Linked DNA regions of Homo sapiens: region 1 is linked to region 2. The links come from fine-mapping of genetic effects on gene expression. Tissue or cell type: whole blood. Region 2 holds a variant in brackets; the other region holds the start of a gene. All regions are shown on one strand. Distances are between the middles of the regions.

What was found. PIP is the estimated chance that this variant, and not a neighbour inherited with it, causes the effect.
Region 1: GUCA1B starts here. The variant in region 2 is fine-mapped to the expression of GUCA1B in whole blood (TOPMed, PIP above 0.99).

Annotation. Positions count from the first base shown.
Region 1 is chr6:42,190,667-42,198,847 of GRCh38, reverse strand. It overlaps GUCA1B (guanylate cyclase activator 1B), which reads left to right and starts at 3,892. Exons shown (of 4, transcript NM_002098.6): 1 at 3,892-4,234. The coding sequence starts at 4,028. RefSeq lists a cis regulatory region at 449-1,401.
Region 2 is chr6:42,212,626-42,220,806 of GRCh38, reverse strand. MRPS10 (mitochondrial ribosomal protein S10) reads left to right here and starts at 2,946. Exons shown (of 7, transcript NM_018141.4): 1 at 2,946-3,005; 2 at 6,463-6,527; 3 at 6,615-6,687. The coding sequence starts at 2,958. RefSeq lists enhancers at 2,779-3,058, 3,630-4,231, 4,232-4,834. The variant T/C (reference allele first, on the strand shown) is at 3,533.

The DNA of each region.
Region 1 (8,181 bases), 22 kb after region 2:
ACTAAAAATAGAAAATAAGCCAGGCATGGTGGCGTACGCCTGTAATCCCAGCTACTTGGGAGGCTGAGGCAGGAGAATCACTTGAACCCGGTGGGGCAGAGGTTGCAGTGAGCCGAGATCGTGCCATTGCACTCCAGCCTGGGTGACAGAGCGAGACTTCGTCTCAAAATAATAATAATAATAATAATAAAATAAAATCATAATTTAAAAGAAACACCGAGTCTAGATTATGTTCTTTTTTATACCAGTGATAATTATTAATATTTACTTATTTAATATTTTTTCAGTATTTGTATTATGACCCATGAAGGCAAAAACGTGTGGGGCCCGTGAATGTCATAATGTAGCCCTGAATGTGGGGTCAAGGAAGGATTTTTGTCTTGTTTTAATAAAGGCAATATTACAGCACACCTGAATGCTGACGGGAATGATCCATTAGAGAGGGATGAGTGGAGGCTGCAGAAGAGAAAGGGAGTAACTGCGGGAAGGAAGCTTTCGAGTAGGTAAAGAGAGATGTGATCTAGGAAACAAGTGGCGGTGTTGACGGGGACAAGGGGAAGGGCACGCTGCTTCCACTGAGACCGGAAGGGGGCAGAGGACATGGGCACAGATACAGAGAAGTTGGTAAACACTGGTGGGAAGATGAGTCACTGCCTCATCTGTCTCTGTGAAGTGTGCAACAGTGTGGGAGTGAGTGGAAGGTTTGAGGGCAGGAAGCGCTGTGGAATAGTCATCTCAGAGAGGGGGAGAGGGAATTCGGCAGGAAGAGTATGTAGTATGATTGTCTGGCATGATCTGAAGTGCGTACAGCCAGCATGATTTATGATGTCCTCCAATGATGTCCAGGCTCCCCACTGTAGGCAAAGTGTTACTGCATAGTTAGTGAACAGCCTTAACCAGGGCCAGGCCAAGTGAGGCGTTAGGAGGAGAGAGGGGCACAAAAGTCAAAATGGAGAGAATGCTGGGCCATGGAATGAAGATAAGGAGGAGAGTGAGGAGATGAGCAAGATGACAGATGTTAAAAACAGATCAGCAGGTTGGAAGTCGCAATGAGATTAGTGAATTATTGGAGTGAAGGTATTACAGTAACAGATGGAAGGGGTGGGGTGCTGATAACAGACGGCAGCGTTTGAATGTTTCAGAGGTAGTAGAGATTGGTGACAGCAAGGCCTAGGGTGGTGATCCTCAAACTTCAGTACGCATTGGAAGCACCTGGAGGGCTTGTTAAAACACAGACTCCTGGCCCCAGCCCACAGTTCCTGATTCAGCAGGTCTGAGGTGGGGCCTGAGACATTGCATTTCTAGCAAGCTCCCAGATGCTGCACTTGTGGCTCAGGGACCACAAGTGAATGGAAGTACTAGGTAAGGTGGAAGAAAAGCTCTTTGGAACTAAAGAGATCAAGGACCAGGCCAGGCCCGGTGGCTTACGCATGTGGGACCATGCCAGGTTGCCAGCAATTAGAGACTAAGAGGGCAGTGTGACCCCCACACATCTCACTGGGGCCGGGCGCAGTGGCTCATGCCTGTAATCCCAGCACTTTGGGAGGCCAAGGCGAGCAGATCATCTGAGGTCAGGAGTTCGAAACCAGCCTGGTCAACATGGTGAAACCCCATCTCTACTAAAAATAGAAAAATTGGCCGGGCATGGTGGCAGGCACCTGTAATTCCAGTTACTAGGGAGGCTGAGGCAGGAGAATCGCTTGAACCCGGGTGGCGGAGTTCACAGTGAGCCGAGATCGCACCACTGCATTCCAGCCTGGGTGAAAAGAGCAAAAACTCTGTTTCAAAAAAAAAAAAAAAAAAGAGAGAGAGATCAAGTACCTTTGAGGCCAGTGTATGGGATGGGCTGTTTATCCACTTGGAGGTCACAGTCACTGAAATGACTGACATGATGCTTTGAGACAAGCAGGGAAGTCACCAGTGAATGACAGTAATGAGGAGAAGTAAATAGTGGCAAGGAGTCAGATGTGGCTTCAAAGGGACTGGCCTTTTTTGGGGAGAAAAAAGTAAAAGGCCATTTGGAGGCAAGAGTTAGAAGCGAGGAGGACACTAGCCCTGTTATCTAGACCTTGAGGTGTGTGTGGGGGAGAAAAACCCACCACCACTTGAAAGGATGACAGAAGAAATCACATTTCTCCTTCAGGAATAGCAAGAAAGTTAAAAGAGCTTTCAGAGCTCAGTGACGTCTGGAGGCAGAGAACAGTGAGAGAGGAGGTCAGGCCTGGAGATGTGCAAAACAATTCAGGCTGAACACCCAGTGAGGGATGGGTAGGTTAAGGATAGATTCACTGGAACTGCTGCCTCTGAAGTCTTCTAGAAAAATGAGTGTCACTGGGCGTGGTGGCTCATGCCTATAATCCCAGCACTTTGGGAGACCAAGGCGGGTGGATCACTTGAGGTCAGGAGTTTGAAACCAGCCTGGCCAACATGATGAAACCCCATCTCTACTAAAAATACAAAAATTAGCTGGCTGCTGGGTGCATCAAACCAACATGGCACATGTATACCTATGTAACAAACCTGTATGTTGTGCACATGTACCCTAGAACTTAAAGTATAATAAAAAAAAAAAAAAGAAGAAAAAATAGCTGGGTGTTGTGGTGTGCACCTGTAATCCCAGCTGCTCGGGAGGCTGAGGCATGAGAATCACTTGAACCCGGAGGCGGAAGTTGCAGTGAGCCGAGATCACACCACTGCACTCCAGCCTGGGCGACAGAGCGAGACCCTGTCTCAAAAAATAGAAATTTAAAAAAAAAAAGCAAAGAAAAAGAAAAATGTGTGTCCCTGGTCTTTTGATTTCTTGGAGGTGTCATTTTTATGTTACATTAAAATAAGCATGAATATGTAATTGTTCAAAAGCAAATTTTACATGACCTATAATGTAAAAGTAAGAGCCTTCAAAGATATTTTAGGCCATGCTCCCAGATCCTTCTCACATGTTAGTATTTTGGAGGAAATGTGAAAAAGGCACTACCCCTAGGTCTTGTGTGAAGGGTTGGAGGGAGGCATTTGTAGTTTAAATCAGAAAGTGAAAAGCTCCCAAGATGAAAGGTGTAATCTGGAAAGGAGCTTCAGGGACCGAGTTAGCCTGGGAAGAGAGTTGCTCACCTAGAGCCCTTCCCATCATAGATTCTGCCTCTTTTCACTAGACCGTCTGAGGGGCGAGTCCCAGATCACCAGCAGATTCTGTTTTATGGCCTAGGACTTGATCTCACTTCCTCTCTGGATTTGAGTCTCCTGTCTCCAAGATGGGCCTCCCTGAAGCAATGTGAGGCCCAGCTAAAGAGATAGGGAGTGAGTGAGATGGGAGGATCCCAGCCTAGCACCCCGACTCTTTCTTCACTCTGCATCTCTCTGCTTACCTCTCAGTTTCTTCCCCTTCTACCTCTTCAGAGTCTACCAGGGCCAGCTTGGTTGCTTTGTTGACAAGGCTAAGGGAAGGAGTGAGGCTGGAGGAGTTTAGGCTGGAGGTCAGAACTTCCTGGGGAATCTCTTTTTTTTTTTTTTTTTTTTTTTTTGAGACAGAGTCTCACTCTGTCCCCCAGGCTGGAGTGCAGTGGTGTGATCGCAGCTCACTGCAACCTCTATCTCCCAGGTTCAAGTGATTCTCCTGCCTCAGCCTCCTGAATAGCTGGGATTACAGGTACCCACCACCATGCCCAGCTAATTTTTTGTATTTTTAGTAGAGACAGGATTTCACCATGTTGGCCAGGCTGGTCTCGAACTCCTGACCTTGTGATCCACCCACCTCGGCCTCCCAAAGTGCTGGGATTACAGGCATGAGCCACCGCACCCGGCCACCTGGGGAATCTTCTAATAGTCTTAGGGCAGCTTAGCTGGCCTGGACCCACCTCCCTTGCCACCTGCCCCCTGCACCGACTGATCATGTTCAGTCACCCAGGAGATGATGGAGAGGCTGATCAGGCCTCCTGGAAAGGGAGGAAGAGGGCCCTAGTTGGAGAGATCCATCAGCAGAAGCCAGGGAGGAGATACAGACCCTTGCTCCCTGATGCTCCTCAGGGCTAGCATGGGGCAGGAGTTTAGCTGGGAGGAGGCGGAGGCAGCTGGCGAGATAGATGTGGCGGAGCTCCAGGAGTGGTACAAGAAGTTTGTGATGGAGTGCCCCAGCGGCACACTCTTTATGCATGAGTTTAAGCGCTTCTTCAAGGTCACAGACGATGAGGAGGCCTCCCAGTATGTAGAGGGCATGTTCCGAGCCTTCGACAAGAATGGGGTAAGGCACCCTGAAGGGAAGGACCAGTGGCCAGTCCACCTGGCGCCTTCCTCCACAAGTGTCCTCAGGGAGAGCTCCCAGTTCCCCACTCCTCGGCTCTTTCTCTGCTCTTCTTTCCACTCCGTCTCTCTTTACCTTTTCTGTCTCACTCACCAAACCCTTCTGTCTCTTCTCTTCCTTTTGTCCCTTTCCATCTTCTCTGTCTCTCCTTCCCTCCCTCCATCTCTTAGCTGTCGGCTGATGCTCCCTGTGTCCTCTTCTTGAGAGCTGAAGGGCGACTGGCAGACAGTCCAGGTCCTCTCTTTGTGTATTTTTGACCAAGACTCTGCAGCCCAATGACCGGGTTTTCGCATCTGCCAGAGCCCCTGTCACTCTAAACACTAGGAGCAAAAGAGATGTTCTAAATGAGACAAGGTATCTTAGCATGGGCTATGAGCTCCCTCTTGTTGGGGTTCTTCTGAGACTGGTCAGATCCTCCCTGTCAAGAATGCTGGAAGAGGCTCCTGCATGTATTGGGAGACTGGGCGAATGACTGCAAAAGCCCCTTTCAGCTCTTCAAGTCCTGGAAGGTTTCATTAAATCATTCAGACTAGAGTTTCTCTAAGCCCACAATGTCACTAGCAGCTAAGAAGATAACACATCTTGTAAATGCACCAGGGGATTGAATTTTAAATTTCAATTCAGTTAAAAACCCCTTGATTATTTAAGGTTATCCAGTTCAGTGCCCTGGCAATCCTCAAATACCTCAAATACCTCAAATGCCCTGGTATTTGCCTCAAATACCAATTTAATCTGAAGAAAGTGTCAGTTCTCCATTCCTCAGTGCGTGGAGAACTTAGCTTTCTAAGCTGAATCACTGGGAATGCCACTTCAGGTCTCATCCTGTCGCTGGTACCAGTCAGTGCACGTCCCCACAGTGCCTGTCCCGGGACAGGAGGGTGAGGTCAGCACCTTCAATTCAACAGAACCTCCTTAGAGATGAACCCCATCGACCACCCCACAGGGCACAGAGCCAGTTTCGGACTTCTCAGCGCTCCGCCTCTCTTAGGTCTCCTCTGAATCAGCAGCAACCCTGGGTGGGAGGGGCAGACTTTTGTTATTCCAAATTAAATGATGAGAAAGCTGGGCAAAAGGGAATGAATCGATTTGCCCAAGGTCTTAAGTGCTCCTGCCTAGAAGGCAGGTTTTTTAAAGAGAGAAGATGACTTTTTAAAATAATTGATGTTTTTTTAAAATGTAAGAAAAGTAAACAAATATATCAGGTCATAAATAATAAGACTCATTTAAGTCCATCAATCTTCCCCAGATTCATCTAAAAATCAATACGATCATGATTCAAGATCCAAAGGGCTGATTAAGCCCCTAGGCATATAGTTGTACTCCTTATACCTCATCTCTTCTTATAAATCGGCATATGATGTTCATCAATGTTTTTTCCTTTTTGAATAACTTTTTAATTTTACTATGATTCTAAATTTACAGAAGAGTTATAAGAATGATACAAGTAACTCCCATATGCAATTTATCCAAATTTCCCCAGTTATTCACATTTTATATCATTTACTTTATCATTCTGCCTCTCTCTGTATACATACATATATATAATGTATCCTATAAGTATATATACATATACATGATACATAATTTATACATATACTTTTTTTAAGAGAAAGCTATAGATATCATGCCCGTTTATCCCTAAGTATTTCAGTGTGTATTTTCTTTTTTGTTTTTGAGACAGAGTCTCGCTCTGTCACCCAGTGGCATGATTTCAGCTCTTTGCGGCCTCTGATTTCCCAGGCTCAAGGGATCCTCCCACCTCAACCTCTCAAGTAGCTGGGATTACAGGTGTGCACCACCATGCCTGCTAATTTTTGTATTATTTATTTATTTATGTTGGTAGAGATGAGGTCTCGCCATGTTGCCCAGGCTAGAGTGCAGTGGCACAATCTCAGCTCACTGCAATCTCCACCTCCTGAGTTCAAGCAATTCTCATGACTCATCCTCCTGAGTAGCTAGGATTACAGGTGCACACTCCCATGCCTGGCTAATTTTTGTATTTTTAGTAGAAACGGGGTTTCACCATGTTGACCAGACTGGTGTCGAACTCCTGACCTGAAGTGATTTGCCCACCCCGGCCTCCCAGAGTGCTGGAATTACAGGCATGAGCCACTGCACCCGGCCAGGTTTCTTTCTTTTTTCCTTTTTCTTTTCTTTTCTTTTCTTTTCTCTCTTTTTTTTTTTTTTTTTTTTTTTTTTTGAGTTGGAGTCTCGCTCTGTCACCCTGGCTGTAGTGCAGTGGTATGATCTTGGCTCACTGCAACCTCCACCTCCCAGGTTCAAGCGATTCTCCTGCCTCAGCCTCCCCAGTAGCTGGGACTACAGGCGAGCACCACCATGCCCAGCTAATTTTTGTATTTTTAGTAGAGATGGGGTTTCACCATGTTGGCCATGATTGTCTCCATCTCTTGACTTCATGATCCACCCGCCTCGGTCTCCCAAAGTGTTGGGATTACAGGCATGAGCCACCATGCCTGGCCTTCCTTTTTCTTTTTTTTTTTCTTTTTTTTTTTTTGTATGATCATACATTGCATTTACTTGTTGTATCTCCTTAGTCTTCTTTAACCTGGAATCTTTAATCTCAGCTTTTCTTTTTTATTTGACTGTGACATTTTTGAAGACTGCAGCTGAGTTATGTTGTAGGACAGCCCACAACTGGCGTTTGTCTAAATTGGTAGAATTGCCACTGATGTGATGTTGTGTCCTCGGTTCATCATACCATCCGGTACAAGACATCAGTTTGTCCCATCACTGGCGTAGTTAACTTTGATCACTTGGTTAAGGTGGTATCTGCCATGTTTCAACATTGTAAAGTTACTATTTTTTTCTTTGTAATTAATAAGCAACATGTAAGGATATATCTTGAGACTAAGTAAATATCCTATTGTTCAGTCAAATTTTCTACTGGCTTTGGCATCTGTTGATAATTTTCTAACCCCATCACCCCTTCTCTATTTATTAGTTGGCATTCCACTGTAAGGAAGAGCCTCCCTAGAAAGTGTTTTTCAGTTCCTCTCTCAGGGACTGAGCCTTCTTTCCCACTTAGTCTTTGTCTCCAAACCTACACCTGACTCCATTCCCCCTTATATCAAGGAGTGTCATTTCGGAACAATCGGTCTGAGATTTCTAAAGCAAATCCAATCAAAAGTGTTTATAGATGTGGTTCACACGTGAAAATGTGAGGTGATGGAAACCGGTTTGGTGGGGACAAAAAGGTAGGAACACCTCGTCTCTGCCACTCTCCCTTGCAACTCTCGTGGTTGCCCTATGACCGCCTGGAATGGAAGAAAGGGGAGGGTGAAGATCAGATGTCATTTAGGATTCTTATATAACATGCATTGAAGTCAGGGCTGGTGCACAAATATGGCCAATTCAAGGAGAAACAGGGCAGATAATCCCACAGAGCCGGTGACACGCCCATCCTATTCCTGAGTAGACAGAGCCATTTCCATCACTCTCAGGCCTCTGTGGGTAATTGGAGCTGACAAGGTCCCATGCATAGCAGATGAGATTAGTCCCAGCTGGACGTTTCCCAGAAATGGTCCTGGGGTTTCCAGTAACCTCTCAGATGAGATCACTTGTCTAGAGATCACTCTGGAATATGTCTCATATAAGGCAAGGAGTCATGGAAACTGAATCATGTTGAGAGAGGATGTTGTAGGAATAGAAGCTTCTGGACAAAGAATGAGGAAGACTCTGGAGATCTAGAGAGTGGGGATTTGTGAGTGGTTTCAGGTTTTGTTTTTGTTTTTCTTCTCTTGGCACCCCCAAGCACTAGGCTTATTTGCTGGACAGAAATAGATCTTAAGTGGAGACTGCAAGTTCTTCCGACGTGATGCACTGGAGGAGATGCATGCCTGGAAAAGCTCTGCCACTTGCTGGCTGGG
Region 2 (8,181 bases):
GTCAACATGGAGAAACTCCGTCTCTACTAAAAATACAAAAATTAGCTGGGCGTGGTGGCGCATGCCTGTAATCCCAGCTACTCAGGAGGCTGAGGTAGGAGAATCACTTGAACCCAGGAGGTGGAGGTTGCAGTGAGCCAGGGTCATGCCATTGCACTCCAGGCTGGGCAACAAGAGTGAAACTCCGTCTCAAAAATAAATAAATAAGAAGTGCACACAGGTGAAGTGTGCTGTTTCCATACCCTGTTGCAAGGCCACACTGGAATCTCTGCCACACCTCAACACGGACTGAATTCTAGTAAACAGAGGCCAGCCTGAGGGGCAGGAAAACTGGTTTCTGCTCCTAGACCTTTTCTATCTCCTAGATAGGTGTGATGTTGGGCAAATCATTCTGCCTCTTCTTTGGTTCTCTTGCCTGCAAAATAGGGTAGTAATAACTATTTGTGGGGAGAAAAAAAAAACAACTTTATATTTGTACAGTTCTTTATTTGGATGCTATAAAATATTCTCATAAACTTGATCTTTTTATTTTTAATCTTCTCAACAACCTTGTGAGGCAGGTGAGGTAGAAACTTAATGGCACAAATAGTGGATGACATCTATAGTGTATCATTACATGGCAGTATTGTACTAAACACCATATATTGGTATTGCATTGAATTCCCAAGCAACTATTGGAAGCAGGAACTACTGTTATCTTTTTTTTTTTTTTTTTTTTGACATATGAGCAAACTGAGGCTGAGGGTAAGGAAGTAACTTGCTCAAAGTCACTCAACTAACTGGTAAGCCTGGGATTAGAAACCAGATCTGATTATAAGGCTAGAGTTTTCCATTAGGCTAAAATGCATATGTGAAAGCACTTTGGGGAAATAAAGCTTAGAAATGTGAACAAATGGGCCAAGTGCAGTGGCTCATACCTGTAAAACCAGCACTTTGGGAGGCCAAGGTGAGAGGATTGCTGGAAGCCAGGAGTTTGAGACCAGCCTGGGCAACATAGCAAGTCTCTGTCTCTACAAAACAATAAAAATAAAATAAAAAATGGTCGCAAACACCTGTAGTTTTAGATACTCCAGAGGCTGTGGTGTGAGGATCACTTAACCCCAGGAGTTTGAGGCTGCAGTGGGCTATGATCAAGCCAGTGCTCTCCAGCCTGGGCAACAGAGCGAGACACTGTCTCACACACACACACAAAAAAGACAATATAGTATTATAGAAGCAGACTTTAAGATGAGGAGAAAGTAAAAGGAAAAATAAAAATAAATTTTTAAAGATTTGCACAAATGGAATAAGTTTTTTTTTTGGAGACGGAGTCTCGCTCTGTTCCCTAGACTGGAGTGCAGTGGTACAATCTCAATCTCGGCTCACTGCACTCTCTGCCTCCCGGGTTCAAGAGATTCTCCTGCCTCAGCCTCCCAAATAGCTGGGATTACAGGTGCACACCACCATGCCTGACTTTGTATTTTTAGTAGAGACAGGGTTTTGCCATGTTGGCCAGGCTGATCTTGAACTTCTGACGTCAGGTGATCCACCCGCCTTGGCCTCCCAAAGTGCTGAGTGCTGGAATTACAGGTGTGAGCCGAGCCACTGCACCTGGCCTTTTCTTTTCTTTTCTTTTTTTTTTTTTTTTTTTAGACAGAGTCTCATTGTGTCTCCCAGGCTGGAGTGCAGTGGCACGATCTTGCCTCACTGCAACCTCCACTTCCCGGGTTCAAGCAATTCTCGTGCCTCAGCCTCCTGAGTAGCTGGGACTACAGGCACACAACGATGACACCCCACTAATTTTTTGTATTTTTAGTAGAGATGGGGTTTCACCATGTTGGCCAGGCTGGTCTCGAACTCCTGACCTCAGGTGATCCGCCCACCTCAGCCTCCCAAAGTGCTGGGATTACAGGCGTGAGCCACCGCACCCAGCCTGAAGAAGTTTTTATTATAGCAAATCCCAGTTATACATCTTTTTACTTGGAAAAAATTATGGTGGACATTAATAATTAGACAAAACACTTTGGCTTGTTGTAAGTGAAGCTAGCCATTGTAAATTCCTAAATACTAGAGTAACATAAGGAAATGAATAATTTAGAAAGATCAGTAGGACAGCGGTATACAAAATGGTTGGAGCACAGGAATTCCAATTGGTGTGGGGAAGGAAGAAAGGATTAAGAACCATAATTAGAAAGCCGCTGCAATAAGGTAACTGAGTGGCAACTGGACCCAATGGTAGTGGCCGACTTTTCTTTTTCTTGTTAAATATAGATTTTGTTAAAATTTTGAAAAATGCAAAAAAAATTGAAAAATGCAAAAATAGGAAAATAAATCACCCATTATTCCAGTACTGAAGTAAATGGTGTCAATACACTAGTTTCAGTCCGGGCTTTGTGGTTCATGCCTGTAATCTCAGTCCTTTGGGAGGCCAAGGCCAGAGGATCACTTGAGGACAGGAATTCAAGACCAGCCCACAAAATAACGAGAGCAATATAATGAGACCCTGTCTCTACAAGAAAATTAAAAAAAAAAACAAAAAATTAGTCGGCTGTGGTGGCACGCACTTGTAGTCCAGCTACTTGGGAGGCTGAGGCAGGAGGATCACTTGAGGCAGGAGTTTGAGGCTGCAGTGAGCTATGACTGTGCCACTGCACTCCAGCCTGGGCAGCCGAGTGAGACTCAGTCTCTAAAAGGAAAAAATAAGTAAATAAATAAATGTGTGTGTGTGTGTGTGTGTATACACACACAACAATTTAAAGGTGAAAACATTAATAGGGCTTGGTAACTATCCAGACACTGGCCGGAGCCAAACCAGCCTGGCCAGCCAACTGTCCCGCCCCCAAAAAGCACAGGTTCATGTCTCTATGGTTGTTCCAGCGCCGGAACATGAGGATGTACTCTCTTCTTTTGCGGAACTCTATGGTCTGAGGACGCCGCTGTAACCCCGGAAGCAATCCTGAGAGGTCGGGACCGGCAAGATGGCGGCGCGGACAGCGTTCGGTGCTGTGTGCCGGCGCCTCTGGCAGGTACTGGATTGGCTAGGGAGACTAGGAGGGCTGACCGGGATAGTTGCTTTTAAGTTTCCCTGCCACCAGCCGCTCTGCCCATCAGGATTTTTCCTGATATTTATCCCTCACCTCGCGCCGTTTACAGGAAAGTGACGAGAAAGGGGCTAGTTTTATCAGAATTCTCTCATGGAATTAAATATAAGTTAGTGAGTCCAGGCAAAGATAGGAACAAGAATAATCGTAGAATGTCAGAGCTGGAAAAGATTTTGTACTTCGTATGTTCCAAAACCCCTCCTTTCACGCTTGCAAAATAAACTGAGGCTCAGAGAAGACAGGAAATTTGCCTCGCGAAAATTAGAGGCTGAGCTGGTGCAAGATATCAGACTCTTCCCATGGAACTAAATTGAGATGCTTTCCTGGCATCCAAATTTAGATGAAGGTCTCAAGCCAGAGAAGTGGGTTAGATATCCTCTGCGCAGTTATTTGCAGGAGGAGCAAAAACTTTTCAGCAGCGGTTCTCCTGCTTTTTGGCCTTGGGACCACTT[T/C]ACACTTTCGGAGTTCAGGACTCCAGAGAGCTTTTGTTTTTGTGGGTTTTTGCTATCTATATTTAGCTTTTTGGAAAATAAAACTTAAGAATATATATTGATTTAAAAGTAACACTAACTCATTACATGTTACAACTAATACTTTATGAAAAATATATTTTCTGAACAAACTGAGTAAGGAGCAGCAATGTTTTACATTTTTGCAGCTCTCTTTAATTTCTGGCTTAATAAAAGCTAGATTCAAATCTGCTTCTGTATTTAATCTTTTCCTATATCACACCTCAGGCTGTCACGGGAAAACTTCACTGTACACTGGTAAGAGAATGAGTGGAAAAGTTGTAAATGACGTTTTGGTTTTATGAAAATAGTTTTGATTTCCCGGATCCCCTGAAAGTGTCTCAGACCCCACAGACGTCCTCAGACTACACTTTGAGACCACCGTTTTTGTTTTTGTTTTTGTTTGGAGACGGAGTTTCGCTCTTGTCGCCCAAGCTGGAGCGCAATGGCACGATCTCGGCTCACTACAGCCTCCACCTCCCGGGTTCAAGTGATTCTCCTACCTCAGCCTCCCGAGCAGCTGGAATTACAGTCATGCGTCACCATGCCCAGCTAGTATTTGTATGTTTAGCAGAGACGGGGTTTCACCATGTCGGTCAGGCTGGTCTCGAACTCCTGACCTCAAGTGATCCGGCAGCCTCGGCCTCCCAAAGTGCTGGGATTACAGCCTTGAGCCACCGCACCCGGCCTGAAAACCACTGTTCTTGAGAAAAGTCAGATGGTATTAGAGATTGAAATTTTTGAACTGCTTTATTAAGACAAATTTACCCAGACAGCCCTCCCTTCCAAACCACCACTCCCCCAACACACACACACACACACACACACACACTCTCTCTCTCTCTCTCTCTCTCTCTCAAGAAATACAAAGAAAAAATGCAATTTAAAAACTTCTTGGCCGGGCACGGTGGCTCACGCCTGTAATCCCTACACTTTGGGAGGCCGAGGTGGGCGGATCACGAGATCAGGAGATCAAGACCATCCTGGCTAACATGGCAAAACTCCGTCTCTACTAAAAATACAAAAATTAGCTGAGTGTGGCGGTGGGCCCCTGTAATCCCACCTACTCAGGAGGCTAAGGCAGGAGACTTGCTTGAACCCAGGAGGCGGAGGTTTCAGTGAGCTGAGAATGCTCCACTGTACTCCAGCCTGGGCGACAGAGCAAGACTCTCTCAAAAAAAAAAAAAAAAAGAAAAGAAAAAAAAAAGAAAAGAAAAAGCAGAGGTTTATAGTGGGAGAATGTGACTGAGAAGTGTAATATTCTTGCTCCTCTTGCACAACTCGATTGTGGGGTCACTGGTGTAATTGTTGGGAGGGAATTTTCTATGCAATTTTGTCTGAAGAATGGCACATACCTCTTACCACTTTGTGTTGTACCTGATTTCCTTTTTCCTTTTCCCCTTTGGTGCAAAGAAGATTATAGAGTTATGATTTGTCTCTATCTTGGGTAAGGAGAGGAAGGACAATAAGCTAAGAATAGGCTTTTAAAACGTGGCTAGGTGGTGGTTCACTCCTGAAATCCCAGCACTTTGGGACACTGAGGCTGGAGGATCGCTTGAGCCCACGAGTTCAAGACCAGCCTGGGAAATATGGTGAAACCCCATCTCTACAAAAGTACAAAATATTAGCTGGGCCTGGTGGCCCGTGCCTGTAGTCCCAGCTATCTGGGAGACTGGGGTGGGAGGACCACCTGAACCTGGGAGGTCCAGGCCATGATCATGCAACTGCACTCCAGCCTGGATAACAGAGTGAGACCTTGTCTCAAAAAAACCCTGAAAAAACAAACAAAAACGTACTTAGGTGACAATCATTTGTATTAATGAAACTTCACTTATGCTAAACTTCTTTTTTTTTTTTTGAGAGGGAGTCTCGCTCTGTCACCCAGCCTGGACCTCCGCCTCCCGGGTTCAAGCGATTCTCCTGCCTCAGCCTCCCAAGTAACTAGGATCACAACCGCACCGCCACCATGCCTGGCTAATTTTTGTATTTTTAGTAGAGACAGGGTTTCACCATGTTGGCCAGGCTGCTCTGGAACTCCTGACTACAAGTGATCCACCCACCTTGGCCTCCCAAAGTGCTGGGATTACAGGTGTGAGCCACGGCACCTGGCCTTATTTTCATCTTCATTGTGTTTTTAAGGATTCTATTGTGTTTCCACTTTCTCAGGTTACACTTCAAAATCTCAGAAAAGTTGAAAGGAAAAAACAGCTGTTATATGTAGTAGTATCGTTTGTTTCCTAAAACTGGAAAGTCTTGTTCCACCAGGGGGAGCTGATGGTAAAGGATTTGGAAATGTGGGTTCGTTGTAGCATGTGGCACAGTAGTTAATGATGGGTATAAGTCACAGCACATATTTCAGTTCATTATAAGCTAGTTATCCCAGCCAAGCTAAGAAATATGTATGCTTTAAAAGATGTATGAAAGCATCAAAAGAGGGATACTTCAGAATTTTTATTCCAACTCTTAACAAATTATAAAAACAATATATTTTATTGCTTAAAGATATTCAGGCAAAATAAGTATTATACTGAAGTACAATTAATTTGTAAAAAATAATGGGAAAATGAAGTCACATTTTTTCTTGATGTCCACATAATTCATAGCTTTTTTTAAATGTGAGAATTGTTTTTTTTGAAAAAGTTTTTATTCCTAATCTTTAAAATAGAGATTCTCTAGTATTTTGAGACTGCTTTTTTTTTTATCATCAGCTCTACCATTGTCCTCTTTTTTTTTTCAATCTAATTTGGCCATTTTAGTTACCCCAGTATCTTCGTCTGAAATAATGAGGTAACCTTTTAGTTTTTAGTGGAAATTATGAATGGTTTGGTAGTTGACTTTAATTCTAACACATGTCCTACTTTTTTTTTCTTTAGGGATTGGGGAATTTTTCTGTAAACACTTCTAAGGGCAATACAGCCAAAAATGGTGGCTTGCTTCTGTAAGTATACAATTGGATGTGCTAAATTGAACAAAATAGGTTCTTGTGCTATTTTACTTAGGTTTCTCTTTTTTTCCCCACACATAGCAGTACCAATATGAAGTGGGTACAGTTTTCAAACCTACACGTTGATGTTCCAAAGGATTTGACCAAACCTGTGGTATGTACTCCCTGTTTCTTGGTATAAGGAGCTACCTTGGCAATAGGTTTTCCTTATTATTTCATTGGGTTTTTTTTCCCCAAACACTCTATGAATAAAAAAATTTTGTCCTAGAATACTGGCAAATGCACAACGCATATATTCTCTTAACTCCCTGGATTATATTGTCTTCAGGGTATCAAAGTAAGTTCTAAAGGAATAAATTATTTACCCCCAAATAACTGTGTTAATTAGTAGTCTCTTGCTTTTAGCTTGGCATAATGGAAGAGTTGTCAGAATTTGTGATGTAGAATACTTGATTTATGTTATGGAAAAGTATTTTTCTTGTAGCCTTCAAGTCTTTGTTTTCATTTTGTGTATTGAGCCTGGGCCTGGACAGTGCTTTATTGTTCACAGTGAGAAAATGCGTTAGCACAAATAATAAACATCTAGAAGGAACTTGGTAACCCTGTAGAAGCTATGATTTCATCAATCCAGTTTTTTGTGTTACTTGTAATTTTTAAAAATCCTTTCATTTCCACCCCTCAAAAATAACCCCCTTTAACAGTTTGGGATTACAGTTCTAGACATTTGTCTGTAGGTACTCACTTTGTCTGTGCACATGTCTAGTTTACTGCTCTTTTCTAACTTTTCTCTTAATAGATATTGGATATTTATTTATTTATTTATTTTGAGACAGAGTCTCGCTCTGTCACCCAGGCTGGAGTGCAGTGGCATGATCTCGGCTCACCTCACCTCAGCCTCCTGGGTTCAAGTAGTTCTCATGCCTTAGCCTCCCGACTAGCTGGGATTACAGGCACACACCACCATGCCTGGCTAATTTTTGTATTCTTAGTAGAAATGGGGTTTTCCCATGTTGGCCAGGCTGGTCTCAAATTCCTGGCCTCAAGTGATCTGCCTGCCTCAGCCTCCCAAAGTGCTGGGATTACAGGCATGAGCCACCACACCTGGCCAGTACTGGATGTATTTCTATGATAGTACATTTAAGCCCCAGTCTGCAACTCACATGCCTGCAGGAGCCAGGCCTATAAGAAAAGGTGGCAGAATTGGCATGGTGTGCCACTGTCTTTATAAGCAAGACAGCAGCTACTTATTCTAGCCACTTGTTGCCCTGTGGGAAATCAGACCTAGTGATGCCAGCCTGTCTAAATCTTCCAAGCTAAACTGAAATCCAGATTTTCTTGTGAAATCTTCTGATTTTTAATATTCCTAACAAATTCAAAGTATCTTTTAACACCCTGTAGGGATCAGTCAGAACACATCTTGAGGCTATATTCCCCCTTCTCATCCCTCAACTTAGGACACAGGCTATCAGTATATTCTGTTCTTCCAACAACCCTTTTTGGAGTAATTGAGAGTGGATATCTAGCTTTCTGGCTAGTAAGTAAATCTTTCAGGAGTGAAGTGATTTAACTCTGAATCATTGGATTAGTAGTATAATTTACTGGTTTAACGGATGAATGAAATGAAGGTAATTCACCTTTTGGAAGAAAG